4 linked regions of the Homo sapiens genome follow. The protein of the gene in region 1 interacts with the protein of each later gene in a biochemical or structural test. Each region holds a gene or a part of one and is shown on either strand. Other genes may lie near its edges. The genes, in order: CREBBP, KAT2B, STAT1 and CREB1.

What was found.
Region 2: the proteins of CREBBP (region 1) and KAT2B form a complex in vitro, tested with the Homo sapiens proteins (4 studies listed by BioGRID).
Region 3: the proteins of CREBBP (region 1) and STAT1 form a complex in vitro, tested with the Homo sapiens proteins (5 studies listed by BioGRID, with this or other methods).
Region 4: the proteins of CREBBP (region 1) and CREB1 form a complex in vitro, tested with the Homo sapiens proteins (15 studies listed by BioGRID, with this or other methods).

Annotation. Positions count from the first base shown.
Region 1 is NC_000016.10:3,730,268-3,738,165, reverse strand, and holds part of CREBBP (CREB-binding protein), read left to right. Parts: intron 1-1,350; coding exon 1,351-1,516; intron 1,517-1,962; coding exon 1,963-2,130; intron 2,131-6,228; coding exon 6,229-6,390; intron 6,391-6,692; coding exon 6,693-6,974; intron 6,975-7,898. UniProt on the Homo sapiens protein: Acetylates histones, giving a specific tag for transcriptional activation. Mediates acetylation of histone H3 at 'Lys-18' and 'Lys-27' (H3K18ac and H3K27ac, respectively).
Region 2 is NC_000003.12:20,036,178-20,044,052, forward strand, and holds the start of KAT2B (histone acetyltransferase KAT2B), read left to right. Parts: upstream 1-4,268; 5' UTR 4,269-4,300; coding exon 4,301-4,603; intron 4,604-7,875. UniProt on the Homo sapiens protein: Functions as a histone acetyltransferase (HAT) to promote transcriptional activation. Has significant histone acetyltransferase activity with core histones (H3 and H4), and also with nucleosome core particles.
Region 3 is NC_000002.12:191,010,903-191,018,748, reverse strand, and holds the start of STAT1 (signal transducer and activator of transcription 1-alpha/beta), read left to right. Parts: upstream 1-4,577; 5' UTR 4,578-4,731; intron 4,732-5,070; 5' UTR 5,071-5,224; intron 5,225-7,846. UniProt on the Homo sapiens protein: Signal transducer and transcription activator that mediates cellular responses to interferons (IFNs), cytokine KITLG/SCF and other cytokines and other growth factors.
Region 4 is NC_000002.12:207,524,863-207,533,135, forward strand, and holds the start of CREB1 (cyclic AMP-responsive element-binding protein 1), read left to right. Parts: upstream 1-5,099; 5' UTR 5,100-5,272; intron 5,273-8,273.

The sequences.
Region 1 (7,898 bases):
GTGGATCACCTGAAGTCAGGAGTTCAAGACCAGCCTGACCAACATGGTGAAACCCCATCTCTACTAAAAATTAAAAAAAAGGCCGGGCGCGGTGGCTCACACCTGTAATCTCAGCACTTTGGGAGGCCGAGGCGGGCGGATCACAAGGTCAGGAGTTTGAGACCAGCCTGACCAACATGGTGAAACCCTGTCTCTACTAAAAATACAAAAGTTAGCCGGGCATAGTAGCATGAGCCTGTAATCCCAGCTACTCAAGAGGCTGAGGCAGGAGAATTCCTTGAATCCAGGAGGCGGGGGGTTGCAGTGAGCTGAGATTGTGCCACTGCACTCCAGCCTGGGCGACAGAGCAAGACTCCATCTCAAAAAAAGAAAAAAGAAAGAAAAGAAAAAAAGAAAAATACAAAAAAAAATTGGCTCACCTAGTCTGTAATCCTAGTACTTTGGGAGGCCAAGGCAGGTGGATCACCTGAGATCAGGAGTTCAAGACCAGCCTGACCAACATGGTGAAACCCTGTCTGTACTAAAAATACAAAAAATGAGCCAGGCGTGGTGGCGGGTGCCTAGCGTAATCCCAGCTCCTCAGGAGGTGGGGGCAGGAGAGCCACTCGAACCAGGGAGACAGAGGATGCGCTGAGTCGAGATCATGCCATTGCACTCCACCCTGGGCAACAACAATGAAACTCTGCCCCCCGCCCGCAAAAAAAAAAAAAGAAAAAAGAAAAAAAATGTTCCTCCTGCCCCTTGCTGTTAAACCTTCCCTGCCCCAGGCGACCACTAATCTACTTTGTCTCTCTGAATTTGTCTTTTGTGAATCCTTTGTGTAAACGGAACCCTGCAGCGTATGCTGTCTTGGGTCTGGCTTCCTTCTCTAGCCCTTGGTTTCTGTACTCTAGACCTGCCCCATTCCCTTCTGAAACTTGAAAAGGATAGGGGCATTTGATCAAAGTGTCTTGAACAGAATGAATGAGGTTTATGTTGACATTGACCCTTGGAGAAAAATAGTCAACCGAACTGCCTTTACAGTGCACAGGAGGAAGGGGATGGCATTGCCTTGATGAGCCATCATATTCCCTGGTTCTTTAATGAGGCCTCAGGTTTCTTTTGCAGCCTCGGCCCTGCCCTGTGTGTGCACCCCAAGGGAGAAGTGTTGCAGGGCTAATTTGCAGGCTTGCATTTGCTCAGGATAAAGTTCGAGCCTTGCCCCCACCACACCCAGCTTTGTGGGCATTCATTCTCTCTCTCTGGTTACTTCTGTCCTGGCTTTAGTCCTTGCTCCTCTGCTATAACTCCTTAAAGGCAGGGCCGATTTCACTGGCACGTTCATCTGACGTGTGTGCGTGGGTCCTGCAGGTATGTGACAGGGCACATCTGGGCCTGTCCTCCAAGTGAAGGAGATGATTACATCTTCCATTGCCACCCACCTGATCAAAAAATACCCAAGCCAAAACGACTGCAGGAGTGGTACAAAAAGATGCTGGACAAGGCGTTTGCAGAGCGGATCATCCATGACTACAAGGTACCCGGCGCTGAAGGAAGGTGGTGGCTTTTGTCACAACTGAGGGGAGGATATTTGTGTGCCTTTTTCTTGCATTCGCATACTTGTTAATTACCTTCACTTATGAGGATTAGAAAGCAGAAAAATAAAAGCCTAAAGTGAGAACTTAGAAGCATTTTCTTCAGCTGATTGAGGCTTTCCCCTGGCCGTCTGAGAGCAGCACAGTTGGAGCTGTTTCCATCAGTGGGCATTGGGGCCTGTGCATCACTGTTGCACACATAGGGGCTCCAGCACTGTGGTGGGGGGTGCACATGTGTGGGGGTCTGCTGCACTGTGGTGGGGGGGCACACATGCATGGGACTCTGCCACACCATGGTGAGGGGCACGCTTGCGTGGGGGTCTGTCGCACCATGGTGGGGGGCACGCGTGCATGGCCCTCATCTCACTGTTGTGCTTTGCCCACTCAGGATATTTTCAAACAAGCAACTGAAGACAGGCTCACCAGTGCCAAGGAACTGCCCTATTTTGAAGGTGATTTCTGGCCCAATGTGTTAGAAGAGAGCATTAAGGAACTAGAACAAGAAGAAGAGGAGAGGAAAAAGGAAGAGAGCACTGCAGCCAGTGAAACCACTGAGGTACAGACCCTTCTCTGAGCTCCATTGCCCACGTGTCCCGCTGGAGCTGCAGGGTGGCAGGCTGGGAGGCGCGTGTCGACTGTTAGGTCCTTCCTGTGGTGGTGTCTCCGTTCACACATGCACGTCGACACCACCTGCAGCACAGGGCGTTGGTGGGCAGCAGTGTGGGCTCTGCACTCTCTGCACAGTGGATGCTCTGGGGAGCTGGGGGTCCACTTAGACTCGGAGAGGGAAGAGAGGAAGACAGAAAATGGGACATGGGGCAGTCAGGACACAACCCGCTGATGTAAAAAGTGAGTCGAGGAGGCACAGGGTTGCCAGGCCTTATTCCGTGTTTGGTGGCCACTCTGCACATGATGCTCATGCCCTGCTGCCCTCTCTCCTTGGCGCTGCCCCTGAGTGCCAGGCAGTGCAGACTGAGCCAAACAAAACCCCATCCCTGGCCAGGCGCGGTGGCTCACACCTGTAACCCCGCACTTTGGGAGGCCGAGGCAGGCGGATCACAAGGTCAGGAAAGGGAGACCAGCCTGGCTAACACAGTGAAACCCCATCTCTACTAAAAATACAAAAATTTAGCCGGTTGTGGGAGGGGGCACCTGTAATCCCAGCTACGAGGGAGGTTGAGGCAGGAGAATCGCTTGAACCCGGGAGGCGGAGGTTGCAGTGAGCCTAGATTGCGCCGTTGCACTCCAGCCCAGGAGACAGTGCGAGACTCCGTTTCAGAACAAACAAAACCCCATCTCCGCCCCCAAGGGAGTGGCTGTGTCCTGGTAGGATGTGAAACAAAAAGAACCCAGACCCAAGCATGGTGTGCTCTGAGCGTGGCAGAGCTCTGAAGGGGAAGGAGCCTTGGGGAGGTGGCGTGTGGGCCAGACCCGCCCACCACAGGAAGGTGCTGGAAGAGGACCCGCCAGGCGGTGGGAGGAGGCGCGCTGTGTGCGGGTTTGTGCGGCTGTCTGGGGAAGAGATGATGGTGGCGTGGGTGTGGGCTGTAGCTGTAGGTGCAGGGAGAGCGATGACGAACGTTGAAGGCTGCAGCCCCAGAACTTGGGACAGGCGATTGTGACCAGTGAGGAAAAGCGGTGAATGGAGGTGGCTCTTGCGTGGGCTGCTGCCATGGGTGAGGCAGCCGGGAGCCGGCTGGGGACATACTGCCACTCTGGTGCCTGTCCCATATGAGAGCACGTCTGTGAGGTGGGTGCCGGATGGGCTGTAGGCGGAGCGTGGGGCCTGGGCCGCTTCCGCCACACACACTCGTGCTCACTGCACAGGTGGTTGAGAGGCAGCCACCTGCTGGACGGCGCCCCAGAGTGTCATTCGCAGGACAGAGGAGGCGCGGGCAGGGGGTGGCGTGGGTTTACGCCCTAGGTGGCTCCTAAGCAGAGCTCCTGGCCTGTTGTCTTCGGACTTGCTCCCGCTGGAGTGTAGCTGGTCTCACTGGTGTCTGGTGAGTTAATGCTTGAGTTCCATCTCCTAAGGGTGACACGGGAGGTTACCGCGTCCGAGACAGGCTTTGCGCAGCTGAGTTCCACCCCAGGAGGGGGCACCTGCCTGTGGCATGGCAGCAGTGGGGTTGTCCAGAAGACAGGCCTGATAGGGGCTCCTGCTGGGGCAGCCTTCCCTGTGCACCGGGGACATGCATGTGTTAGGAGGCGGGATGCTGAGGTGTCGGCATGTAGACCTGCTGTCCCTTGTGTGTTTGGTTCATGGACAACAATGGGCAGGGACATGCCTTCGTCAGCAACACCCCAGGAGCTCGCTCTGGGGGTCAGCCTTAGTGAGGGCTGGTGCGTGGGGTGGAGCACTGCTTTGCTATTAGCTCTGCTCTGCATCATGCTGTCAATTCTGGGAAATGGGGAAAGGCTCGCGATAGTGTCAGGTGGGGCGAGAAACGGAACCAGCTCCCTGTGTGCAGTCCCAGCTTCGTGAGGAATGTCGCAAACACGGAGACAAATGTGCCCAGGGAAAGCTCCAGAACACAGAACACTGCTGCTCGGGAAGACCAGAAAAACAAAACTTTTTAAAATTACTTGTCTATATTTTCTTAATTTCATGAACATATTTATTTTATAATTTTGTAAAAATAGACTTCCAGGCCGGGCGTGGTGGCTCACGCCTGTAATCCCAGCACTTTGAGAGGCCAAGGCAGGTGGATCACTTGAGGTCAGGAGTTTGAGACCAGCTTGGCCAACATGGTGAAACCCCGTCTCTACTAAAAATACAAAAATTAGCCAGGTGTGGTGGCGCACGCCTGTAGTCCCAGCTACTTGGGAGGCTGAGGCAGGAGAATCACTTGAACCCGGGAGGCACAGATTGCAGTGAGCCAAGATTGTGCCACTGCACTCCAGCCTGGTGACAGAGCGAGACTCCATCTCAAAAAAAATAGGCTTCCTTTGTTTTAAGGCTGACACAAAAATTGAGCACAGAGTTCCAGTATATTGCAGCACGCAGTTTCTCCTGTTACTAATGTCTTACCTTAGTGTGGCACATTTGCTGCCACGGTGAGCCATTTGTTGATGTTGATGCATTATTGTTAAGTCTACACTTCGTTCCAATTTCCTCAGTTTTCCCCTGACGTCCCTTTTCTGTCTCTGAATCCTGCGGAGGACCCACGTGATATTTGGGCTCCTCGGGCTGCTTGTCGGTGGGGTGGGAATTTTTTTTTTTTTTTTTTGAGATGGAGTCTCGCTCTGTCGCCCAGGCTGGAGTGCAGTGGCGCCATCTCAGCTCACTGCAAGCTCCGCCTCCCGGGTTCACACCATTCTCCTGCCTCAGCCTCCCGAGTAGGTGGGACTGCAGGCACCCGCCACCACGCCTGGCTAATTTTTTGTGTTTTTAGTAGAGACGGAGTTTCACCGTGTTAGCCAGGTTGGTCTTGATTTCCTGACCTCGAGATCCGCCTGCCTTGGCCTTCCAAAGTGCTGGGATTACAGGTGTGAGCCACCCCGCCCGGCTGGATTGTTGAATTCTCTCTGGACTGACCCCTCTCTTTGAACACCAAGAGTCTCTCTCATCTTGTTAAAAATGAAACTCTCTGGCTGGGCACGGTGGCTCATGCCTGTAATCTCAGCACTTTGGGAGGCTCAGGCGGGCGGATCACCCGAGGTCCGGAGTTCAAGGCCAGCCTGACCAACATGGTGAAACCCCATCTCTACTAAAAATACAAAAATTAGCTGGGTGTGGTGGCAGCACCTATAATCTCAGCTACTAGGGAGGTTCAGGCAGGAGAATCGCTTGAACCTTGGAGGCAGAGGTTGCAGTGAGCCGAGATCGCGTTATTGCACTTCAGCTTGGGTGACAAGAGCGAGACTCTGTCTCAAAAAAAATGATAGGTAGCCGGGCATGGTGGCGGGTGCCTATAATCCCAGCTACCCAGGAGGCTGAGGCAGGAGAATCACTTGAACCCAAGATGACACCACTGCACTCCAGCCTGGCAACAAGAGCAAAACTCCGTCTCTCAAAAAAAATAAAGCTCTCTGTTAAAGTGTAAGTGAGTGGTAATCCTGCGTTCTTTCCAGAGGAGGAGCCTGTGGGCTGAGAGCAAGCCCACCTTCAGCCAGTCAGGCGCAGCACTGATGGCCCCAGCAGGGAGCCAGCCTGCTCTCCGTGGGCCTTGAGTGGACCCCGCAGGGGCCTCAGAGTCCCTGCTCTTGATGGGGCAGCTGCTTTTCCCATCAGCAGCTTTCCTGTCTCCTGGAAGCTCTCATGCTTTCTCGGGTGTGTAGAGCCTTCCTCAAGGCAGACAGCTGCTGACCACAGTTGTGACGTGGAATCTTCCGCATCTGGTTGTGGCACAGTGGAAACAGCCCCCACTGCCCTCATTTGTTAATTTCTGAACTCGCACTCTGGGTCTCTTTTCCCCTTTAGAGGCAGCGTGGCATAAAGCTGATAATGACACCAGCCTGGCCGAGGACAGGCCCTGCTCTGTCCCGAAGGCTGCAGCACCTACAGCCACCTGTAGCCGTTCACGTATGGGGTCTGCCTGGTGGTGACCTACTTTGGCCTGAGCTTCCTGATGCCCACGGCCTGGGAGCTGGGCGTCCGTGCCAAGTGTGGAGGGGCACTTGCCTGGTCTCACAGCCTTGCGTGTTGTTGCAGGGCAGTCAGGGCGACAGCAAGAATGCCAAGAAGAAGAACAACAAGAAAACCAACAAGAACAAAAGCAGCATCAGCCGCGCCAACAAGAAGAAGCCCAGCATGCCCAACGTGTCCAATGACCTGTCCCAGAAGCTGTATGCCACCATGGAGAAGCACAAGGAGGTAGGCGTGGGCTGCGGTGCTGCAGCCGTGCCTCTGGCCGGGAGGAGGGAAAGACTCGCAGCTGGCGGGCGTGGGCCCGTGTGCAGGTCTGTGGTGGGAGGGAAGTGGCCCCCAGGAAACCAAGTGGACCAGTTGGGTGACATCATGCAACGTGTCACCAATTTTGTTCCATCCCAAGGCATCAGGGCCATCAGGCTCAGCCACCTGCCTATTCTGCAGGCTGGGTGGCTGCGCCTGCCCTGAGCTCACCACTGGAGGTGCCATGTCCCTTGTGTGGGACTAAAGCCCCTCCTCTCCTGCAGGTCTTCTTCGTGATCCACCTGCACGCTGGGCCTGTCATCAACACCCTGCCCCCCATCGTCGACCCCGACCCCCTGCTCAGCTGTGACCTCATGGATGGGCGCGACGCCTTCCTCACCCTCGCCAGAGACAAGCACTGGGAGTTCTCCTCCTTGCGCCGCTCCAAGTGGTCCACGCTCTGCATGCTGGTGGAGCTGCACACCCAGGGCCAGGACCGCTTTGTCTACACCTGCAACGAGTGCAAGCACCACGTGGAGACGCGCTGGCACTGCACTGTGTGCGAGGTAGGCCCTGCCCCCACCCCCACCCCCACAGCCGGCCTGGGGTCTGACGAAGCATCCTGTCCCTTTGCATGGGTGCCCGGGTTGGTGTCTGTACCTGATGGTGGCTGCACTGACTCCTCCAGAACTAGGACAGCGTCACAAGGCAGAAGGCGTTGCTGTGTGTGTGTTTCCTAAACCTGCTCTGTGTAGCCACAGCCACAGGCCTGACCCTGGGGACGGCCAGAGGGAGGCTCTGCTGGGAAGTCTGGCCTGTCTGTGCCCAGTTCTAGTCTTGCTAAATGGCTGGAAACACCCGCTGTCCTGTTGGCAGCTTGGGCCCCTCTGGCCACTTGTTCCTGAAGGACCCCCCGGTCATGCTCCCTCACTCCCCTCTAGGAATTTTGACCCCCCTGTGAAATGACGTGGGTGTCCCTTGCATGGGCCGAGTCAGGCTGTGCAGGGCAGGCAGGTGACAGATCCCACCATCCCCCTCCCAGGACAGTCACCATCACCTGCCAACCCGGAGCCTCCTCACTTGCTGTGGTGTCTGTAGCGGGGCAGAGCGGGTCCTCAGCAGAGCGAGGGCCTTTCTTCCCTCCCCACCTTCACACACTTCTTCCGCTTTCCACCTTTCTCCAGTCTCCTTTGTCCTCTTTCTAGTTTCTGAATGCGGCAGTTTTCATATCTTTTTGTGAACACAGTCATGGTACCTGGTCCTAGGGCTCCATCAGGTTGCCAGGTGCGAGCAGTTTTCAGTAACTTGGGCTTGCGCGTTGGGGAAGTCCCACTGGTGCACTGCGGATAGCTCAGGCCTTCCCAGAGGCACTTCACGGCAGCTGTCGGCGCTTTGGGAGGGACCGGCCTCCCTCAGCCTTTCACTGTCTGGCTTCATAGTTTGAGTACAGGAGTTGGACAGGCTGTGGCAAGGGCTGATGTGACTCCCAG
Region 2 (7,875 bases), on another chromosome or scaffold:
TAAATAAGGTTGGGTAGTGCAGTGGCTCATGGCTGTAATCCCAACACTTTGGGAGGCCCAGGCAGGAAGACTGCTGAGGCCAGGAGTGAGAGACCAGTCTGGGCAACATATTGAGACCTTGTTTCTAATAAAAATTGGAAAAAAAAAAAAAAGTAGCCGAGTGTGGTGGCACATGTCTGTAGTCCCAGCTACTTGGGAGGCTCAGGTAGGAGGATTACTTGAGCCCAGGAGGTCGAGGCTGCAGTGTGCCTTGATCATAACACAGCACTCCAGCTTGGGTGACAGAGCTAGACCCTGCCTCAAAAAGAAAAAAAAAAAGGTTGAATAAAATAGCACTAATGGCGCTGGGCATGGTGGCTCACGCCTGTAATCTCAACACTTTAGGAGGCCAAGGCGGGTGAATCACGAGGTCAGGGGTTCGAGACCAGCCTGGCCAACATGGTGAAATCCTATCTCTACCAAAAATATAAAAAATCAGCTGGGCGTGATGGTGGGCGCCTGTAATTCCAGCTACTCGGGAGGCTGAGGCAGGAGAATCGCTTGAACCCAGGAGATGGAGGTTGCAGTGAGCCGAGATAGCGCCACTGCACTCCAGCCCAGGCGACAAAGCGAGGCTCTGTCTCAAAAAAAAAAGAAAGCACTAATGGTATTTGGGGCATGGTTAAGATTCACACTGGAAATGATTTAATTCATAAATGCTTGAAAACTAGGGAAGGGGATTTTATGTTTCCTCATCCTAGGATTCATTTATTATTTTCAAAACTTTTTTCCTAGGAGGATTTATTTTATTTAATTTAAAATAAATGTTCAGTAATTATAGCCACTTCCCTCAGAGGAAGGTTGGCCCAAGGAGCCCCACTTAGGCATTGACATGTCTCTTTATTTTACACTCATATCCAACTGCTGTTTCTAAAAGCAGGTGTCTGGGAAGAATGTCAGTCATGGTCCATGTACTGGGCCAAACCTGCACTTTGACCACTTGATCTGTACCCTTACAGTCTGTGCCTTTACTGGGGATAATTTCAATCCATCTGTGGGATTCAGGGTTACTGGTACATTACAGAAGCTGTATAGCCTTGGTAGGAAGGAATATGGCAAGAAACTCTGCTAGATGATATAACAATAGATGGCCACAAAACTTGCCTTTTTTAGGAAGGCATCTCTGAGCAAGGAATACCAGATGAATAGGGTTAGCCATGCTGTTTGGTGGAGGGTATCCACATAGTACAGCAAATGCAAAGGCCCTGAGGTAGGAAAGCATTTCCTGAGTTTGGCTGAAGTATACTGCAGCACCAGGGAGAATGGGAAGGGGTGGACCTTATCAACTTCTTGTTATATAATCTCGTGTTCTGAAGTTGAAATTTTATTTTATTGCTATGTACCTTTTTAAATCTTTCCCTTACTTTTGAATTTCCCATGCATTTATTGAACATATACAAAATTGTGCTTATATGTCAATGTGAGTTTGTTTTTAACATAAATGGTATTATGCTGCACTGAGATTTATTCAACAGTGTTTCTTAGAGATCTATGTTATTATATTTTTATAAAGGTCATTGTGTATAACAGGTATAAAATATTCTGTTGTGTGAATATACCACAAGTAACCTCCAGTGGTCAGCCTGCCTCTACCATGCCCACTCTCCAAGCTTTTATTTTCTGAATGTAGCTTCTTTACCTCAGTAAGTGGTAAATACTTTGTAAATGAAAACATTGCCTTTTATTTTCTTGGTAGTTATTTCTTAAAAGTACTGTGTGCACAGAAAGAGCACACTGAATGCTTACAACAACCTAATTATGGAAAAGCAATAAGCCTCCTGAATCCTTTGCCCTTGAAATTTCCTTGCCTGGTGCTCATAACACACTTTGAATAGGTCTTGAAACCACGGGCCTTCAGCCTAAGGCAGTATGTCATCTGGGTACTCTGAGCAGGGAAATAATGAAAAATAATGTTCAGTTAATGGCACAAGCCATTCGCCACTCAGACAGTGATGGTTTTCAGAGTGGATTGAAAGGAGATTGGCTACTTCTGCTTCAAAACATCCTGGAAATTGTCTGCCTCCTGAATTCTGAGGGACGCTTGGGAGGAGGAGTTGATAGGTGACTTAATGTTAAATCTGGGTTCCCTCCCCCAATTGTCACTGTGAAAATTTTCAAACATACAGAAAAGTTGAAAGAATTGCGCACTGTGCCCATTACCTAGACTCTATTATATGGACCCCTATTTGCTTTATCATATCTCTGTTCATCCACCCTTTACCCATGCATGGAGGCATCCATACATCTTATTTTTGATGTATCTCAAAGTACAAAGAGCACCATTAGAGTTCAATGCTTGTGATTTTTCTTTTTTTAAAAATTTTTGAGGCAACATTTATATCCAGTGAAATGTACAGATCTCAAGTGGATCATTCCATCAGTTTGACAAATGCCTGCAAGGTGGAACCCAAGCTCTTATTAGTATCTGTTAAATCCATGTTAGAGGTTGATCAGAGAAGCACAGCCTTTAAGACTCTCACCCTGCTTTGCGGAGAATGGCAAAAATCTGCGAAACATCTCAGCAGAGCCAGGAGAGAGTAACACTGGTAACGTGAAGCACGTCAAGCTAAGAAAGGAAGCACTGAAATTAATTGTCCTGAATGGAACCTGATAAGAATCTGCCATTTCATCCCCTCAAGACTGGACTCAAGTTGGGAGAGAATATTGCCTTTTGCCCTGTCTAAGCTAATATCACTGTTTAGATCTACAAACTCCCCCACCTCCCAATGTTTATATATTAACCTGCATTACAAGTCAAAATAACACAGAGAATCTGGAAAAAGAAGAAGGGGAATGTTTCCCACGAAAAGCACACCCCTTAAAGCGTCTGGCCTGAGAGCTATACAGCATGCATAAAATCTGATAATAAGCACATTATGACCCACATTGCATATAACAAAAAGTAGGGCACTTCTGAAGGGTCCTGAGAAAAAGCCCTGGGCTTTTAAAACCTGCTTAAGAAGGCGATCAACGGTACACCACTTTCAAACGCAGCACTGACTTGTATGCTCCACAGTCATCAACAGTGAAAACAACAGTTTTCAACAAGAGTTGGAAACACTGAGTTGAGGGTTTTTTTTTTCTTTTTAAAGTTTGAGGCCAAAATCGATATTTATTCTTTTGAATTATGCTTATATCTTTTTCCTGGTTAATACGCACGCGGTGGCACAATTTTGAAAACTACGTAACGTTATAGAACCACCACCCAGAAACGAATCCTGTTAACAAACTTTTTGTATTCAAACTTTTTCCACTGCATAGTTTTTGACAATGCTTTTTAGACAATCTTTCTTTTAGCAACCAGCACTTTCAAACAAAAATTACAGAGAATAGTAAGTTTTTTTCCCCTCCTCCGGCAGATTTGACCCAGAAATTGCTATGGGAAGAAAGTGTTAATTATATTAAAAAATAGTTTGACAGAAAGTATTTAAAAAGAGAAAGGGAGAACATCACGTCTTTATTTTGGTGAATTAGCAACAAAGAAAAAGATTAGCATGGACGGGTACTTTTCAAAAATATATTTTTTTTCCTCTGGCTCCCGCTAGGGTGGAGGAAGTTGTCTCTCTGTCAGAGACAGGGTGGAAGAGAGTGAAAGGACAAATGATTGAGAGGCTGCCCCCTCCCACTGGTGCAGGCGTGCGGGGGTCGGATGGGGGGCCGCGGAGGGGGGAGGTGGCCAGCAGGTGCCTGGGCTCCAGGCCCCTACCCCCACCCTCGTCCCCACCCTCACCCACACCCAGGGATTGGCCTCGCCCCCTGGCGGGCGAGCGGTAGGTGTCGAAGCACTGGGGTGGGGGGTGCAAACCCCGCGGGCAGCGGAAAAGAGGCCGTGGGGGGCCTCCCAGCGCTGGCAGACACCGTGAGGCTGGCAGCCGCCGGCACGCACACCTAGTCCGCAGTCCCGAGGAACATGTCCGCAGCCAGGGCGCGGAGCAGAGTCCCGGGCAGGAGAACCAAGGGAGGGCGTGTGCTGTGGCGGCGGCGGCAGCGGCAGCGGAGCCGCTAGTCCCCTCCCTCCTGGGGGAGCAGCTGCCGCCGCTGCCGCCGCCGCCACCACCATCAGCGCGCGGGGCCCGGCCAGAGCGAGCCGGGCGAGCGGCGCGCTAGGGGGAGGGCGGGGGCGGGGAGGGGGGTGGGCGAAGGGGGCGGGAGGGCGTGGGGGGAGGGTCTCGCTCTCCCGACTACCAGAGCCCGAGAGGGAGACCCTGGCGGCGGCGGCGGCGCCTGACACTCGGCGCCTCCTGCCGTGCTCCGGGGCGGCATGTCCGAGGCTGGCGGGGCCGGGCCGGGCGGCTGCGGGGCAGGAGCCGGGGCAGGGGCCGGGCCCGGGGCGCTGCCCCCGCAGCCTGCGGCGCTTCCGCCCGCGCCCCCGCAGGGCTCCCCCTGCGCCGCTGCCGCCGGGGGCTCGGGCGCCTGCGGTCCGGCGACGGCAGTGGCTGCAGCGGGCACGGCCGAAGGACCGGGAGGCGGTGGCTCGGCCCGAATCGCCGTGAAGAAAGCGCAACTACGCTCCGCTCCGCGGGCCAAGAAACTGGAGAAACTCGGAGTGTACTCCGCCTGCAAGGTACGCGCTCGCCGCTCTCGGACCGCGGATGGGTGCTAGGGGCCCAGCCCGCGGGACCCCCCTCCCCCTCCCGCTTCCACCTCCGCCTCCCGCCTCCTGCCTCTCGCCTCCCGCCTGGGGCCGCTGCACCGCGGAAGTGCTCTTGTCGCCCGCGCCCAATTAGCTTCTTCTTGGATAAGAGTCCTGCTGGGTTTGAAGAAGGGGGATCACTAAGACGGAGAGCCCTTCATTCCTTCCGCTTGAAAGGAGTAGCTTCGGCATCCGAGCTCCCGGGCTACCTTGGGGTTTTGTTGCTCTGTAGGAGCTCGCTGGAGTCACTTTCCCGGGAGTGGAGCGGTGCTCTCCATGTGGCGGGTGACCCAGGGGCAAGGAAAAATCTTTTGGGGGACTGAGTGGTCCCTTCTGCAATCGATCCCTTCCTGTGTCCCACTGGGAGGAACTGGGTGCAAGGAGTGGGGGTGGAGAAGACTCCCGGACTCCTGGCGCTTTGGGAAAGCGAAGGGGAGGAAAGCGCGGGGTGGGAAGGTGGGCAGAGTCCGAGGCGAGGGTCTTGTGGTGCCTGGCGCCCTCGGCTGGGGGCGGAGGCACTGCCGCGCGCGGTGACAGCCCTGTCATTATTGTATTATTACTTGTTTAGTTAAAACGCTGTCCCAGCTGCTCGAGGTGTAAACAGGATTTGGCAAAGTGACAGCCCAGCGCGGCGGGCGCTACTGCTCAGTTTGAGGACACCCATTTCTTGCTACCCACTCTCCATGCCAGTTTAGGCACCCTGTCACCTCCAGCTGCAGATCCAGATGTGGAGGCTGTGTTCCCGAGGTGGGAGGATTGCCCGAGGCCGCGGGGCAGGCTGGCCCTGCGCTGTCAGCAGCGGCTTTGTTTTGACAGGGTGACAGCTGAGGGGGGCGGGGACTTGGCCTTGTCAGCTCCTGCGGCCTGTGGCTGAGGCAGGGAAGAGACACACTCACACACACTCACACCTCCCTGTATTCTTCCTGCCTGCTGTAAAGAGGGTCAAGTTCCCAGATTCCAGATTCCCGATTGTCACAACCAAGCTGCAGTGACCACTTCTGAATTTTGACATAACTATAATTTATTCTACTAGAACATCTAGGTTATACTCTTCTTGGTACTTGCAGGAGCTTCTCAGTCACAATGGAATGTCTATGCTTGCTCTTTTTCCACACCATATGCTCAGGTTTATGTTAAGCACCTCTGTATCCTACACTGGTTCAATAAATATTTGTTGAGTGAATGTAGGATCTAGCCCAGTGCTCCTCAAACTTTAATGTGCATGGGAATCTCCTGGGGAAGCTGGTTAAAATGCTGATTATGAATCAGGTGGTCTGAGGTGGAAGCTGAGAGTTTGCATTTCTGACAAACTCCCAAGTGATGCTATGCTAGTCCACAGACCACATTCCAATTCAGACCTGGACAATATATTATTTGTCCCCTTTGATTTTAGCAGAAAAGACAGAAACAAATAATAATGCTATGTGGTTATTTCTGAAGAAGGAATGCAAAAAAGATGAAGTGGGGAGTGTGCTTCTAAGAAAGGTGCAAGCCCAGGAGTTGATCATGAAGGGCATTAGACGAATGAGAACAGGACACCGACTGTAGTAGGCAGAAGGGCGAGCTATGTACAGAATTAAGAACAAGGTCATGGGTACAGGGCATACTGCTTGGGTGATGACTACACCAAAATCTCACAAATCACCATTAAAGAACTTATGTAATCAAACACCACCTGTTCCACAAAAACCTATGAAAAAAAAGAGCAAGGTCAATTACTTGGTGGCCTTGGCGTTTCGCAGCCAAAGTGGGCTCATGCAGGAACTGTCTCAACTCAGTGTTTCTGTTCTGGCTTTATTTTAAAATTTATTTATTGGGTTCTCATCACCAGCACCTCTTAAAGACTTCCTGCTGCCTGCTGTAGCTTTAATATCTGAAAACTTTCCTGAAGTTTTGGTTTTGTCTAAAACCATGAGCATATGTGGCCTGCATTGATATTTTTGATCTTTTCAAATTTCCATGGGTGAGATGTAGCACCACTTCCAAGTGGGATTTGAGTGTTTCCTGGTCACTTTCATGACCCAACAAGAGAAAGAGAAAATTTATTTTAACGTCTTTTTTTTTTTTTGAGACAGGGTCTCACTCTGCCACGTAGGCTGGAGTGCAGTGGCATGATCGTAGCTCACTGCAGACTCAACCTCCCTGGGCTCAGGTGATCCTCCTACATCAGCCTCTTGAGTAGCTGGGACTACAGGCATGCGCCAGTACACTATTATTATTATTATTTGTATTCTTTGTAGAGATAGGGTTTCACCTTGTTGCCCAGGCTGTTCTCAAACTCCTGAGCCCAAGCAATTTGCCCGCCTTGCTTCCCAAAGTGCTGAGATTATAGGCATGGGCCACCATGCCTGGCTGAAAGTGTTCATTTTTATGTATCCATTCATTCAGTAAATATTTAGAGGGTTACCAACTGGGTGTCAGGCATTGGGCTAGGTGCTGGGCCTATGACACACAGAATTTGTCCTTCAGGAGTTACTTATTGTGTGTGTGCACAAGTGCATGTGTGTGTATGCATGTGTTGGGGGCCTAGGGATGAGGGCAGTGAACCAAAATTACAGAGAAGTTCAGAAAAACTACTTTCTTGGAGTAGTTGCGGACCCAGAGCAGGACAGTTCATAGACTGGGGCACTGGTAGGGTGGGATTGGCTTCCTGGAGGAAGTGTCAGTGGCTGCTAAGAACTCTTGGCAGGGCAGAGTGGGGTGGGGTGAAGCTTCTTGTAGTGGAGAAACTGAAAGCAGTTGTGGAAGCTTGGAGGTGGGCCAACTGAGCCAGACCTTTGTTGCCTAGGGCCACCGGCTGGGGTGCGTGGCCAAGAGGGCACTGAGGAGTGCAGGAATCTTAACCTGGAGAGTGACATTATCTCAGATTTGCTTTTTTTAAAAAAAAAAAAAATTTAACTGGACTTGATTGGGTACGAGGGAGTGTAAGAGAGCAAAATCTGTGGTTCTCTCTCAGCTTGTTTCTGCACTTAATATGAGCAAGCCCAAAAGGACAGATTGCTCTACCTTTGCCACAGGCCCCTTGGCAAGTTAGATTAGAGAGATTAGAGAATGAGGAGGGATCTAGAAAGAGATAAGGTAGTTCACTGGGGGGCTTTTGAAAGAAAAACAGGTCCCAGGCCTGATATAAATCTGGCCTTTAAACTTCACAAACGAAACCAAAAAAGAAGGGAGCTAAGTCAGCCAGGGTGACGTGCCACACC
Region 3 (7,846 bases), on another chromosome or scaffold:
ATGGAGGCTGGGCAGGGTTTTGAGAGCGGAGTGTGTAAGGCCTCTTGAGGCCTAGACTCTAAATGTCACAATGTCACATCTGCTGCAAGGTGGGGAAATAACAGAGCAGGGAATAATCTGGCCATTATTGAAAATCATTGATCAGGAGAGCCTTCTTAGTTTCAGTTTCATATAATGAAAACTACGTAACTGATATCTTTTTGCCCTGGTTTGCAGGCTGTACTGTATTCTTTATCTAGTTATTGTAGATATTTCTGCTATAAGTTGCTTTAAAATGCTTTGTGCAACAAGGCAGATAAACTAAGTAAATAGAACTGGATGATTTGGGTATAAAAGAAACAGTGAGTGAAGAATAGGAATGATACTGTCTTTTCTCCAAGCAAAATACAGTTCCTCCAAATGGGAAGTGTGGAGTAGTTCTTAAGTCTTTCTACTGTAACATCATGTGAACTTATGAGTTACTCCGGTGACTTCACATCAGTTACTCATCATATAATAGTATTTTCTGGATTCCTCACTGTCCTTGACTCTCCTTTGTCTGTACACCAGTTCAGGGGTGGCAAATAGGAAATTTCACCTTACCTGTTGCTTCTGATTGATTGCTGGTGACAGTGTACCCTGTCATTTGTTGCTCTTTTAAATCCAATACAAGTAGTTGCATTTATTGTTTTAAATGTTGTCCAGTTGATGGGAGGCTGAGGGAGGAGAATCGTTTGAACCTAGGAGGGGGAGGTTGCAGTGAGCCAAGATCGCGCCACTGCACTCCAGCCTGGGCGACAGAGTGACACTTGGTCTCAAAAAAAAAAAAAGTTATCCAGTTGAGGCCAGGCACAGTGGTTGACACCTGTAATCCCAGCACTTTGGGAGGTCAAGGCAGACAGATCACCTGAGGCCGGGAGTGTGAGACCAGTCTGGCCAACATGGCAAAACCCTGACTCTACTAAAAATACAAAAAATTTGACGGGTTTGGTGATGTAGGCCTATAATCCCAGCTACTTGGGAGGCTAAAGAATGAGAATCGCTTGAACTCAGGAGGCGGTGGTTGCAGTGAGCCGAGATTGCACCAATGCACTCCAGCCTGGGCGACAGAGCGAGACTCTGTCATCAATACATACATACATACATATATACATACATACATAGTATCCAGTTGGTTTCAGACCAGCAGCAGTCCGTTAGAATATTTAGATTATTTAGAATTTTGATTTAGCGTGGGAACCTGAGGCATGCTGTCTCCTAGCAGAGGGAAGGAGCACACAAGAACAAGTTGATTACAAAGAACACGCAGTTTCAGGACAGATGGTATATACATCACAACTGTTCATATTCCTTTATCCAGAACAAGTCACATAGCCAAGGTCAGAGTTACAGCACACAGAGAGGTATACTCCACCCTTAGTGAACCATGGCAAGCAGTGGGAAGGGACAGAAGAGATTTGAAAATAGTACAATCTACAGACATAGTGTTAGCTGTTTTTTCTAGTTTTGTGTCTTTTGCAAATCTGACATTGTTGATATATAGATATAGCTTTCCAAGCTGACTGTTATAAGGCAACCGTCACACATTTGTATCTGTCAAATTCTGGATTTCTAGGTTTTTGTTTGGCTTTGGTTTGATTGCTTTTTGAAGCAGTCAATATGTTATACAGTAAGAAAATATAAATAGTTTATCCTTCAGGAATATTGAATCTTGGAGGCATAAGGATTGGACACTTCAAAAACCATAATATTAGAGAGTGTATAGTTATTGTCCAAATAAATAGAGACACATATATTATTTGGTCATTCAGAGACCCCAGATTAATTGCTACAGGTTGAGGTGGTTCTAGAAAGAGAATATAGTATTTGGGCTGGGCTTTAACAGGTGAATAAGAATTTGGTAAGTGAAGAGAGTGAGGAGCAAGACTTGCCATTCAGTATGTACAAAGGGGCAGAAATCAGGAAATTAAAAGCATGGGGGGAGTGCTGGAGCTAGACGAGGTTAGTTGGGAAATGCGACAATGATAGAAAAGGCTGGAAAGAAGGAAAGAAACATTTTGTGGAGGATCCAGACTAGCAGACAACATTTGTGTTTATCATATGTGCAAGGAGAGTTGTTAAGGCTTTTGAGCAGGGAATGACTATATCAATGCAGTATTTTAAGGAATTGAATTTGGCAAATATAGTGAAGGAGAAAGAGACAAGAAAAAGGTAGTATACCTAGAGATTAGCATAGCATTCCAATTCTCAAGTGATGAAGGCTTATGGTAGGTATTGCTGTGGATGCTAAAATAAAGGGGGGTAGGGAAGGAAGCATCCACAGATCTTGATGATCCAAATTGGGATTTGGAGTGCCAAATAATCCTATTTGCAGATGTTAGGATTATTCCATTCCTTCATCAATATTGAAGCTAATATCTGTGCAAGTTTTATAGTACCAGAAAAAAAATTTTTAACATGTAATCTACCCTTCCTAGAGTCAACTTTTGATATAGTTTGGCTGTGTCCCCACCCAAATCTCATCTTGAATGATAACTCCCACAATTCCCACCTGTCATGGGAGGAAACTGGTGGGAGGTGATTAAATTATGGGGGCGAGACTTTCCTGCGCTGTTTTTGTGATAGTGAATGAGTCTCGAGGATCCGATCATTTTAAAAATGGGAGTTTCCCTGCACAAGCTCTTTGCCTGCCGCCATCAATGAAAGATGTGACTTGTTCCTCCTTGCCTCCCGCCATGATTGTGAGGCCTCCCCAGCCATGTGGAACTGTAAGTCCATTAAACCTCTTTATTTTGTAAATTGCCCAGTCTCAGGTCTTTATTAGCAGCGTTAAAAATGGATTAATACAGCTTTTTTCAGAGAACAGTAAAACATTGTCTTGGTTCTTGGGTGAGTAAGAGCAGAAGGGACACTTTTGGTGCCGTGGCATCTCTTGGCAGAGAAGTCTAATTTCACTGCTAACTTGCTTTGTGAGGGTGCATTTGTGACAAGAAGAACAAATAGATGTGCAAAGAAAAAAAACTCATACACACACATATAGGCATATCCATGGGAAATTATTCAGATCCTTCTCCTACCCCAAAGTGCCTAATTATTCAAGGCTTGACTCAAATCCCGTCTACTTGAAGGAACTAATTGATTTTATGAGCATATAGTCCAAAAAGATTTAGTTTGTCTGGCTTCAGCAATGCCTACCTGGAGAAGTGACATTTAAGCTGAGATTTTTAAACTAAGATCTAAAAGATGAGTTAGCCAGCGAAGAGTTGGGTGAAGCAGATGTTGGCTCAAGGGGTTTTCCAAACTCAGGGTGAGAAGTCCCTGAGTTTGGAGAGTGTGGTTTATTTGAAGAACTAAATGCTGAAGTAAGCAAAGCAGAGTGGCACATTATGGGGTTGGACAAAGAGATCGGGCAACCAGGGCTTTATAGTATGTATTAAGAAACTGAATTTTATAAGAGCAAAGAAAAGCCATGGAAGGATTTTCAGGTTGGCAAATGACATGATCTGCTTTTCAATTAAAAAAAAAAACACTCAAACTCTTGTATGGAGAATGGATTAAAAGGTAGATAAGGGCTGAAGTGAGGCAGCCATTCGGGAATCTACTGCAGAAGGAGGCAGCAGAAGAGATGGAGCAGAGTAAATGAGACTTGGGAAATATTTAGGAGGAAGAATCAATTAAGATTTGAGGATCAGGTGTTGCGAGGTGAGGGAGAAGGCAATGTCAACTATGAATCCTAGGTATCTGTCATGTGCCATTTCTAGAAAAAGAGCAGGTTTGAGGAGAAAGATGTTTGGTTCTGAACATAGTTTGTAGAGCTCACTGCACATACAAGTGGAGAGGCAAGTGGGAGTTGTAGGTGTGAAGCCCAGAGGAGAGGTGTGGACGGGATAAGCATTTAAGACTCCTCCATCTAGAAGGAAACTGAAGCTGTGGGTGAGGTCATCACAGCACAGCGTTTAGGAGAAGCCCAGGTAAAGAAGCTGACGAATGTCTGGACCCTGACAACCTTAACATATAATGGTTTGATAGTGGAGGTGGAGGCAATGTAGAAAGAATGCCAGAGGCAGGAAAAAGCAAGAAGGATGTGTTATCATCATGACCAAGGAAGAAACGTGTTTCAAGAACAAAGGCGTCAACTCTGCCCCATGCTTCCGAGCTGTCAAGTAAAGTGAGAAAAACAGAAAAGCGTTCCCTGGGTTTAGCAACACGGAGGTCAGTTGCTAAAGGGAGCTTCTAGAATGACGACGTCGCCAAATCTGTCCTCTGCCTGGATTCTCGGCGATGAAACTACTACAGAGACCTCCAAGTTTGGGCTTCTGCAAACACAGCACGTCCTTCTGATCGTTCTCTAAGATATGTAAACAGAACGCCAGTTCCCAGCGTGGCAACACGGGACTGGGCTGCAGCTCACCCAGCCGGCGGCCCCCGCCGGAAGCCGGCGGAAATACCCCAGCGCGTGGGCGGAGCAGCGGCCCGCAGAGGGAGGCGGTGGCGCCCACGGAACAGCCGCGTCTAATTGGCTGAGCGCGGAGCCGCCCGGTGATTGGTGGGGGCGGAAGGGGGCCGGGCGCCAGCGCTGCCTTTTCTCCTGCCGGGTAGTTTCGCTTTCCTGCGCAGAGTCTGCGGAGGGGCTCGGCTGCACCGGGGGGATCGCGCCTGGCAGACCCCAGACCGAGCAGAGGCGACCCAGCGCGCTCGGGAGAGGCTGCACCGCCGCGCCCCCGCCTAGCCCTTCCGGATCCTGCGCGCAGAGTGAGTGGCCGTGAGGTTCCGGGTGCCGGGGGTGGGACGCGCAGGGACAGAGTCCTCGGGCCGTGCAGTTGGACGCCGGGCGAGGACGGGCCGTCTGTGCTGACCCGCGAATAGTGATCCCAGAGGAAGAACGCGTCCTGAGTATTCCAAGTGCGAGCAGTGCCACCTGTTCTCGGAGATGGCACTGCTCAGCACGATTGTCCTTGCCAGTCGTGCTCTGGCAGTGAAGAGGACTTGTGAAATATAATTTTCCTCTAGAAGGCACTGCACCTTCCCATTTACCGTCACTTTCTCCCGTTTCCACCCCTTTCCATCAGTCACGTTTTCTTCTTTTCGCAGAAAGTTTCATTTGCTGTATGCCATCCTCGAGAGCTGTCTAGGTTAACGTTCGCACTCTGTGTATATAACCTCGACAGTCTTGGCACCTAACGTGCTGTGCGTAGCTGCTCCTTTGGTTGAATCCCCAGGCCCTTGTTGGGGCACAAGGTGGCAGGTCAGTAAATGTTCATGGAATCAGATGAATGAGTACATGACTTCGGAATCTTAATTATGTTTCTATGTTCAAAGATGGAAGGGCTTAATGTCTTCCTAGAGTTTAAAAGTGATGTTTAGTTTTTGCAGACCCCCCACCCCAAAATAATATAGTCTTAAAAAAATTTCTGGCCGGTACTGAAGAGTTCTGTGGTAGGTATGCAGAGGTGTGGTTGATTGTGCTTTGAATGTTGTTTGTATAGATAAGGAGTTATTTTCATAGAACAGAAACAGGACTTGAGCCTCCAGCACAGTCCATTGTGCAACCATTGCTTAATGAGGATGCTGGACTCACACTTGTGAGATCATAATATGGTTTGCTTTTTACTTTCTAATTCCGTCTGAAATATACATAATTTCAATTCAACAAACTGTTTCGAGCACATAGTATATGCAGGGCACTGTCCAAGGTCCATAAGATGTTAAAAAGCAAAATACCCCACTACTCTACCCCCTCCCCACCCACCTTCCCCCGCCGGGGACTCTGGAGGCATCACAGAGCTTTACAAGGAAAACTGGAACCGATGCTCTAATAGAGGTACAGAATTCAGTGAGACGCAAGTCAAAGAAAGCTTAATTGTGAGTAAGTCTCAGACAACTTTATGAAAGAAGGGGCTTTTGTACATAGCTTTGAATGCTATAGGATTTAGAGACGCAAAAATTTGTGGAGAGGCTGTTTCCAAGGGCGAGTAGCTGGAGCAAAGCAGAAATGTTGGGCACAGTTGAAAAACAGTAAATGATTTGGTGACTGGGTTGCTTTGTTGATGGATGAAGATGGGGTGGGGTGGAAATCTGCCTAGGAATGGACAGATCATAGGATTTTTGCACAGGAGATTGATGTGGTCCAATCTGTGGGCAGCAGAGGCTGGACTGGGAAGGTAGAATGTTGGAGACAGGAAGGAGCAGGTCTTGGGATGGAGTGGAAGGAATCAACCCTAAATCTGAGATTTGAGCTCAGTGACTGGGAGATGGCCATGCCACTCCCTGAGTTGGTAACAGGTTTTGTGAGTAGATGAGACTGACTCCAGATTTGTGAACATGAGCTTATTTATTCATTGTTTTTTTTTTTTAGAGACAGAGTCTCTCTCTGTCTCCCAGGCTGGAGTACAGTGGCGCGATCTCAGCTCACTGCAACCTCCGCCTCCTGGGTTCAAGCAATTCCCCTGCCTCAGCCTCACGAGTAGTTGGGACTACAGGTGCACACCACCATGCCCTGCTAATTTTTTTTTGTATTTTAGTAGAGACAAGGTTTCACCATGTTGCCCAGGCTGGTCTTGAACTCCGGAGCTCAGGCAATCCGCCCACCTTGGCCTCCGAAAGTGCTGGGATTACAGGCGTGAGCCACCTGGCCAGCCCAAACATGAGCTTATTAATTCACCTCTTCTGTGCCAGGTGCTACATATGTACTAGCTCAACCAGCCTTAAGAACCAACTGTGGCAGGGTGCGGAAGCTCACGCCTGTAATCCCAGCACTTTGGGAGGCTGAGGTGGAAGGATTGCCTGAGGTCAGGTGTTTGAGACCAGCCTCAGAAACATAACGAGAGGCTGTCTCTACAGAAAATTTAAAAATTAGCCAGGCTTCTTGGCTCGTGTTTATTGTATTAGTCTGTTCTCATGCTGCTATAAAGAACTGCCCGAGACTAGGTAATTTATAAAGTGAAGAGGTTTAATTGACTCACAGTTCTGCATGGCAGAAGGCATCTCTTCACGGGGCAGCAGGAGAGAGAATAGATGCAAGCAGGGGAAATGCCAGTGGCTTATAAAACCATCAGATGTCATGAGGCTCACTCATTATCACGAGAACAGCATGGGGGAGACTGCCCCCATGATTCAGTTACCTCCACTGGTCCCGCCCTTAACACATGGGAATTATATTACAATTCGAGGTAAGATTTGGGTGGGGGCATAGAGCCAAACCATATCACTTGCAGTCTGAGCTCCTTGGGAGGCTGAGGTGGGAGGATTGCTCTAGTCCAGGGGTTGGAGGCTGCAGTGAACTGCGCTCCACTGCCACTGCGCTCCAACCTGGATGACAGAGCAAGTTCCTGTCTACTAAACACACACACACACACCTTGTTGATAGGGGAGTAAGTTACCTGGGTTCGCTTGGCTAATAAGAGGCGTTGCAGCTCCCATTGCCTGACGGTCCAGCATATCTGCTTTAGGTAGATCCTTATTAGTTACCAAGCAGGGAGGGAGACAGCCACAGATTTTTCCACTCAGGTAAAATAAAACTGAACTGAAAAATCAAATTGCTTCAGCAGGAGTGCCAAGGGGCTGGGCTTGGGTCCGTTTCTACTGGTATATATGAGGATAACTAGCTTTATAGGCCAGACATTTCCTCACACTCCTTTGGAAGGACATTTGTGGAGTAGGCGTGACCTCATGCCTGCATACATGTGCTCGGCTACAAGTATGCATACACACTCTTCCATGCCCTACTTGAAAATCCAGACTCCTTCCCCAGAGGTCTGGCAGGACAAGATTCACTTGTGTCTGCTCTGCATATTGCCACCTGTGTGCTGATATAAATCCTAAGTTACATGATGGTCATGGGAGACTCTCCGTTTTCCTAATGAATTTT
Region 4 (8,273 bases), on another chromosome or scaffold:
CATGACAGTTACTAGGATACAAGTTCAACAAAACACAACTTTGCCTTTAGAGAGTTCATGGTTCAATAAAGAATATATGTAAGTATACATGAAATGAATAAGTATAGTTATAAGAGTTAAGAGTGGTACATGTATATAAAAGAGACAAAAACAAATTAAGTGGTTATCTATTCAGTAATGGGGACATTTGGGTCATTCACATTTTTTTAGCCATTATAAATAGAGGGATACTGAGGATTTCAATTAATTCCTCACCCAGAAGTATTTATTTATTGCTATCTATTATATTAAGACTATAGGAAATCTTACCAAATAAGAAAGAAACCCATAATATATCCCCCTCCTTGCTTTAAGGCACTAATCCCATTCACAAGGGGTTTACCTCCCAAGTAGAGAAGTTGAAAATGTTAGGACATTTGAGAGGAAAGACAATCTGTTTTATTCATAATTTCCCCAGTCTCTAGAAGAATGCCTGGCACAAAGGAGGTGCTCCACAGATATTTTTAGAATAAATGAAATAGGTCACCATGGTCTTGGGGTTAGGTAGGAAAGCAAATCACAGGAGGTGATGAACTAGGGCAGGCAGGGTTCATGGAACTTGAGCTCACAGTGAGGGTGAAAATTATATTCGACAGCAGAAATGAGCAAAAAATAACAGGAAGAGGAAGTTGTGATTATAGAAAAGCTCTCAAATACTACTTTCTCTTTGAAGCCTTTTATAATCATCTTATGGGACCTTCCCCCTATTCTGGACCTCTTTCAAGATACTTTTCTTATACTCTATCAAGTTACATCCATGTGTGCTCCTCTTTCATCTCCCTGATATTGACCACATTTTGCAATTGGAAAACTGAGTCAAAAATGGGGGATCACCTGTAGTCCCAGCTACTCAGGAGGCTGAGGGCAAGAGAGTCACTTGAGCCCAGGGGTGTGGGGCTGTCACATGCGATGACCGCTCCTGTGTACAGCCACTGCACTTCAGCCTGAGCAACACAGCGAGAGACTGATCCTGGAAAAAATTTCTTTTAAAATGCAGGTGGCTTCCAAATCCCAGAGACAAAACTTGGATGCTGAAAGGAGAAATGTCAGATAGTGAGATTGAAAATGCTAGAGTATATCCGAAGAGAGAATATCCAAGAGAGAAATGTCAAAGTAGAGAGGCTGAAAATCTAGAGTATACCCAAAATGTTAGTAGTAAAATAACTTGCATTGGAATGAATGGATGATTGAATAAATGAATGAACAAAGTTAGGTGGGAACGGAGGTCATTTGAGCAGAAGTCAAGAAGAATATATGTTTTAATAATTGTTTGAGGCCCACTGGTCTGACAGTAAGGGCCCAAATGAATAGGGAAAGCTAGCCTCCAGTTAGAAGACACCTAGGAAGTTAGCAAAATAATCAATGATAATAGAGTCTAAATGAAGGTTAGTGTATATAAAAAGGAAGAATGAATATGAGGACATTTTTAAATAAAAACTCACCATATTTGGTGGGTGATAATTATAGGTTATGAGTAAATAATTCCAAAGTTTTTTGATATCATGTATAGAGCCACGGTAAGAAGAGCAGGAAGATGAACTCAATTTTGAAAACGTATTTGACACGAGGATAAGCTATCCAAGTAAAAGCTAGTAATAGGCAACATTTTTCCTAACATTGTTCCAAGTATACTTCACATGTATTATGTCACGTAATCATTACAATAACACTATGAGGTGCTATTATCATCTTTATTTTACAGATGGGAAAACTGAGGCACAAGAGTGAACAATTTGCCCAAAGTCATTAGCTAATAAGTGGCTGAGCCAGTGCAATGAATTCACCCCCACCCCTGTCTCCTGCAAATTCGTATTTTTGAAATCTTCACCCTCAATGTGATGGTATTAGGAGATGAGGCCTTTGGGAGGTAAACCCCTTGTGAATGGGATTAGTGCCTTATAAAAGCAACCCGAGAGCTCTTGCTCTCTTTCTGCATTGTGAGGTAAAGGGAAAAAACAGCCATCTACAACCCTGAAGAGGGCCTTCACCAGAACCTGACCATGTTGGCAGCCTGATTTCAGATATCCAGCCTCCAGAGCTATGAGAAATACATTTCTGTTGTTTATAAGCCACCAGTCTATATGGTACTTTACTACGGCAACCTGAACTCACTGAGAGCCAGGATTTGAATTCAAATGTTGAGAAAACTTTGCCCGGGACCACTCAGAAATTCACTATTTATTCGATAAATACCTAACAAGTACCACTATATTCTAGACATTGTGCTGTTGCTAGGGAGAGGAAAAGCTGGTAGTGAACAAGACAGACGTGGTCCTTACCTGCACAATTACATGGACACTAAACAAATAATGAGAAGTAGGAATTGGAAAAGAAAGTGATAAGTTACAGTTAAGTAGGAGGAATGGGTGACAGAAAAAAATTCCAGGGGAAGGGAAGGGCATGTGTAAATGCCCTGAAGTGAGAGCCTACAGTAGGGAATAAAAAGAGGAGAGCCTGGAAAAAATTAAAATACTATGGCAGGAGTGCAGGCAGCTAGGGGGACAGATGGAGAGGCTGGAGAGAAAGACAAGTACAGATAATGGAGCTTAGACAATGTGTGGTAAGCAAAGGGAGACCACTGGAGGAATTTAAGCAGGTCAATGATCAGATTTATATTTAAAAAATTACTCTGGCAGCAGTATGGCAAATGTATTGGAACGAGGCAAGAGCAGTTTTGGAGGACCTGAATGGGTTACTGTGGGACTTCAAGCAAGAGGCAACAGTGGTTTAGACTAGAATGGGAATGAAAAAATGGTCATGGGAACAGAGAGAGGTCACAAATCCAATTTTCCAGGGAGCAGACAGATGTAGGTGATTCTGCTGTGTGTTGGAGGTGTGCTAGGTTTCTGGCATGAACTGGGTAGATGTTAAGATACCCTTTACTGAACCAGGGACTATGGGAGGAGCGTTTTGAAGGAATTATGATATACGGGTTGAGTTTGAAATGCCCTAAGTCATCCAAATGAAAGTGTACCAAAGGCAGTATGCTGGGAACTATGAATGTAGGATTCCAGAGCAAGATCTAGGCTTGAGTTATGGATTGAAGAGTCTTTGACAGAGGGTATTTGATGCTGCTGGGAGAGCATAAGACCACCTAGGAAAGTGTATGGGGAGACTCAGTAAGAGGGCCAGGGTTCAGCTCAGCATGATTCCAATGTGTAAGAGGTAGATCAAGGAGGAGCTGGTTGTTAAAGAGCAAACTCAGGTAGGGAGGAAACCTGGGACATAAGACCAGAGGGAAGAGGGTATTTGGAAGCAACTGTGGTCAATCGCGTCAAATACTGGGATGAGGGCTTGTAAAATGAGGACTGAAAATGATCCGCTGCATTTACAGTCATGAAGCTTGTCTGTGGACAATTCAGAGCCACTTCAGGTGAGCGGTGGGGACACTGGAGAGGGCTGGGAGGTGGGACATGAAAGACTGTCCATGGGGTAAGAGACAGCTGCAGTTGTTGGAGAGCAATTTAGGGAGAAGAGAAATCTTTTTAAAGAATTGAAAGACTTAAGCATGTTTAAATACCAGTAAGAAAGAGCCGGTAGAGAAGGAAAGGTTGAGAGTAACAGAAGGAAAGGAGACTCGTTAAGGGCAAAGTCCATAAGAAAACAGTAGGGTACCTGGAGTACCAGGAAGGACAACTCTTTCTTTACAAGAGAAGTGAGTCATGGGCGGAGTCCAGAATCGAACCCTCTCTGCTTCCTAAAGACACGTCTCCTTTAAAGGACAGAAAAAGAATGATTAAGACTTGAGGCCGGGCGCGGTGGCTCATACGTGTAACCCCACCACTTTAGGAGGCCGAGGCGGGTGGATTACCTGAGGTCAGGAGTTCCATACCAGCCTGGCCAACATGGTGAAACCCCGTCTCTACTAACAACACAAAAATTAGCCAGGTGTGGTGGCAGGTGCCTGTAATCCCAGCTACTAGGGAGGCTGAGGCAGGAGAATCGCTCGAAACCGGGAGGCGGAGGTTGCAGTGAGCCGAGATCGTGCCACTGCACTCCAGCCTGGGCGACAAGGGCTAGACTCCGTCTCATTAAAAAAAAAAAAAAAAAAAAAAAGACTTGAAACCCCAAGGAGAGGGCTGCAGAGTTCACTATCAAGGAGAATGGGGACCTAGTGGTGCCGTCCTGAGAGACCTCTGAAAGAACAATTCAGTAGTTTCCAGCCACGGAAGTCCCCCTGCTGGGTTTAGGGTGCAGTGGGTGCGAATCCCTGCTGTAGAAAACAGGCTGAGGAAAGAAAGCGACACAGGATGTTGTCTGGAGAAAGGCGGGGAGGTAGGATGGGGCATATTTCCAGGGGTCCGGGCAGGTTGTGTGGCTTGGAGGCCTCCGAGGGCCGTCGACGTCAGCCATGGTCCGGGCAGAGCCCCGCAAGGTGCCACAGTATCGGGGCCAGCGCCCCCCGGAAAAGCATGCTCCGCTGGCGGCCGCCAGGTTTCTCCGCGGAGTCTCGGAAAGGAAAACCCGTCCCCACGGGGGTCCCACGACGCCCCCGGGTCCCAGGCCCCGGGACGTTGGCAGAGGCGCAGCAGACCTTCTTCCCCAGCCCGCACGGCTCCAGCGGTCCGGCCGCGTCCCAGCCCGGGCTGCCCGTCCCCCGTCTCCCGGCGGCGTCGGAAAGTTCCCGGGGCTGGCGGCGGTCAAGAGCAGAGCCAGGGCAGCCGCAGCCGCCTTCTAGCCCGCCGCTCACCGCCGCAGGGGCAGGCCTGAGCGGGGGTTTCCACCAAGTCGCCGACACCCCTCGGGAATTCCCCCACTGGGCCACACACAAACCCCGCTTCCTCCTTCAAATTTCCGCTGCCGGCTTTACCGATGCGAAAGCCGCGGTGGAGTTTAGACCACTCCTCCCGGCGCCGGGCTCAGCCCGCCTTCGCCTTCCCTCTCCCCGCGGAACCCCTTCTCGTCGCCCGAAGAAACCCGAAGGTCTTCGGCAAGTTCCGTCCCCAGCGCGGGGGCGGGGCCGCTCGAGCTGCTCCGGGCCTAGCTCGGCTGTTTCCGTGCGCGGCCGCTGCGCACTCGGCACTGGGCGGCGCTGGCTGGCTCCCTGGCTGCGGCTCCTCAGTCGGCGGCGGCTGCTGCTGCCTGTGGCCCGGGCGGCTGGGAGAAGCGGAGTGTTGGTGAGTGACGCGGCGGAGGTGTAGTTTGACGCGGTGTGTTACGTGGGGGAGAGAATAAAACTCCAGCGAGATCCGGGCCGTGAACGAAAGCAGTGACGGAGGAGCTTGTACCACCGGTAAGAGGAGCAGGAGGAGGAGGCAGGAGCCAGAGAGAGCCGGGGGGACGGAGGGGGGACGGGGAGGCGCCGGACACCCGCGCTTGGGGCCTTCCCCTCGCAGGAGGGGCCGCGGTAAAGATGGAGCCTCCGCCCGAGCCCCACAACATCGCCGCCGCTCGCAGCGAACAAAGAATAATGGCGGCGGACTGGAGCCAGCGGCGGCCGGGGCGGCAGCGACTCTGCCTGCAGCCAGCGGCGGCGCTCATGGCGGGGGGCGGCGGGCGGCGGGCGGCGGGCGGGGTGGGAGCCGGCGGCCGGGGGTGTGTGCGGGCGGCCGGCCGCGGCGAGCTGGCGCCCGCGTTCCCGCCGCCGCCGCCGGGCCGGGCGCGGAGCCGGGAACCCGGAGCCGCCCCGGGGGAGGCCGCCCGCTCGGCCCGGCGCTGCCCCCCGCGCCGCTCGCTCGTCCGGCCCCCGCCGCCCGCCTCGCCCCCGGCCCGACCCGGCCGGGCCTCCGGGGCAGCCGCCGCCTAGGTGCCGGTGGGGGATGGAGGAGGAAGAAGGCGACAGTTGAGGGCAGAGGAGGTGAAGGTGCCTGCTGCCTTCCCGGTGGCTTCGGTGCCTGCCATGCCCGCTTCGCAAGGGGAAGAGCTGCAACGTCTGACCTACTCTTCTCTCCACTCTTTGTGCAATAAAGTTCGAAACCCAAGGTTTCCTCTCGTGCTGTATTTTATTCGTGCCCTTTCCCCCCCGCTCCTACACCGTTGAGGAAATGCTGCTTTCTGCCCTGTGTTGCTTAGTTGAGAGATGAGAGCTTGTGCTTTTGGGGGGAATTTTTGACTCCCTCACCCCTTTGCTTTTTTTTTTTTTTTAAAGTCAGTCATGGAAATGCATGCTTTTTGGGAGAAAGGGTGCTAAGAAAAACATTTATAATAACTTTTTAAACTGTTGGGATCTTATAAAAGGGAAGCTGGTGTTTGAAAACAGTTTCGGTTTTAACCCTTTTTAATAAGGTAATCATCACTTGAGATCTATCATTCTGAAACACTTCGTTGGAACGAGTATCAGCCGATGTACTCTTGTTTTACATCATTTCGCGGGGTGCAACCTTGCCAACCGCGTTTGGGTCATCTGGATCTCCCCTCACCCTCCGTCCCACTCCCCCTACCATATTTCCCACGAATTTCTGTGTGAACTTTAATGAGAGATTGATTTAATACTACTACTAAAAATAGACATTAAAGTATCCATTATTTGTCTCATGCAGTAGGTAACCCCCGTCTTGAGATTGACAATTTAAGCCACAAGCTGTATTTTTTCTTCGCCTGTTGGGAAAAGAGGACAGCAGAAAAGTCATTGACACATTAAAAATTAAAAGACAGTTTTTGAAGGACGTGCGGTATGACCTATTTAAGTTTGTAATACCATCTCAAGTTATAATTCTAACCTCAGCTGGCGTCTAACTTCTGAAGGTTTAGTAGAAGATACTTTTGATTGCTGCCTATTGAAATCTTTTACATTTATGGCTCATTTCGTGATTTAAAAGTAAAGCCCCGAACAGTTATTTTAGGTGGTGCAAAAGACGAACAAGTTTGTTTTAAAAATACTTGTCTGTCACTGTATGATTGCATTGTGATTGATACGTACAAACCTTCTGGTTAAGAACAAATATTGATTGGCAGCAGAAGCACTGTCTTATTTTTCTGTATTCTAGTCACTTTTCCAAAACGTGCTTTGCTGTATTGCTTCTCTTTAAAAGACCACATTGGCAATTTGTCATTTCCAAGAAAATTAAGAAGAGGCAATAAAGGCAGGTTTTCTATAAAGATTGGGGAAATGATTTTATTTCCGAGCACTGAAAAAATTATAGTATTGATAATGGTAGCTTACCATTTTTCCTTTATGTTGTTCCGCAAGCCACTATCAGTAGAGTAGAATTTTTTTTCTTGTTAAGAATATAAGTCGGGCGCGGTGGCTGAGGCCTGTAATCCCAGCACTTGGGGGGTCGAGGCGGGCGGATCACTTGAGGTCAGGAGTGCAAGACCAGCCTGGCCAACATGATGAAACCCCATCTCTACTAAAAATACAAAAATTAGCCGGGTGTGGTGGCACGCGCCTGTAATCCCAGCTACTCGGGGGGCTGGGGTTGCAGTGAATTGAGATCGTGCCATGCACTTCAGCCTGGGCGACACAGCAAGACTCCGTCTCAAAGAAAAAAAAAAAAAAGAAAGAATATATGACTCTTCATTTGTGAGATTTTTAAAAAATTGTTCACTGATGGCCGAGTGCGGTGGCTCACATCTGTAATCCCAGCACTTTGGGAAGCCGAGGCAGGCGGCTCACGAGGTCAAGAGATCGAGACCATCCTGGCTAACATGGTGAAACCCCGTCTCTACTAAAAATACAAAAATTAGCTGGGTGTCGTGGCGCGTGCTTGTAATCCCAGCTACTAGGGTAGCTGAGGCAGGAGAATCTCTTGAGCCCAGGAGGTGGAGATTGCAGTGAGCCGAGATCGCGCCACTGCCCTCCAGCCTGGTGACAGCGAGACCCCATCTCAAAAAAAAAAAAGTTTACTGATAAGTTCTTTCTTTAGTCTTGCCCGAGAGATATTTTAAATTGTATTTTTTATTTTTATTTTTATTTATTTGTTTTTTTGAGACGGAGTTTGGCCCTTATTGCCCAGGCTGGAGTGCAGTGGGCTGGTCTCGGCTCACTCACTGCAAGCTCCGCCTCCCGGGTTCAAGCAATTCTCCTGCCCCAGCCCCCCGAGTAGCTGGGATTACAGGTGTGAGCCACCGCGCCCGGCCTGTTTTATTATTTATACATTCATAATTTGTGATTCTTAGCAATTCCAGGTGAAACTTCAAACTTGTATTCATTAATACTTGAACATTCACCTGGAACATGTTACTAAATTGTACTTCTGCACTGTTCCAGCCATGGATAAAAATTACAGCTGGATCTGCTTGAATCTTTTTTTTTTTTTCATGAACACCTACATTTAGAAAGCTAATAAATTACT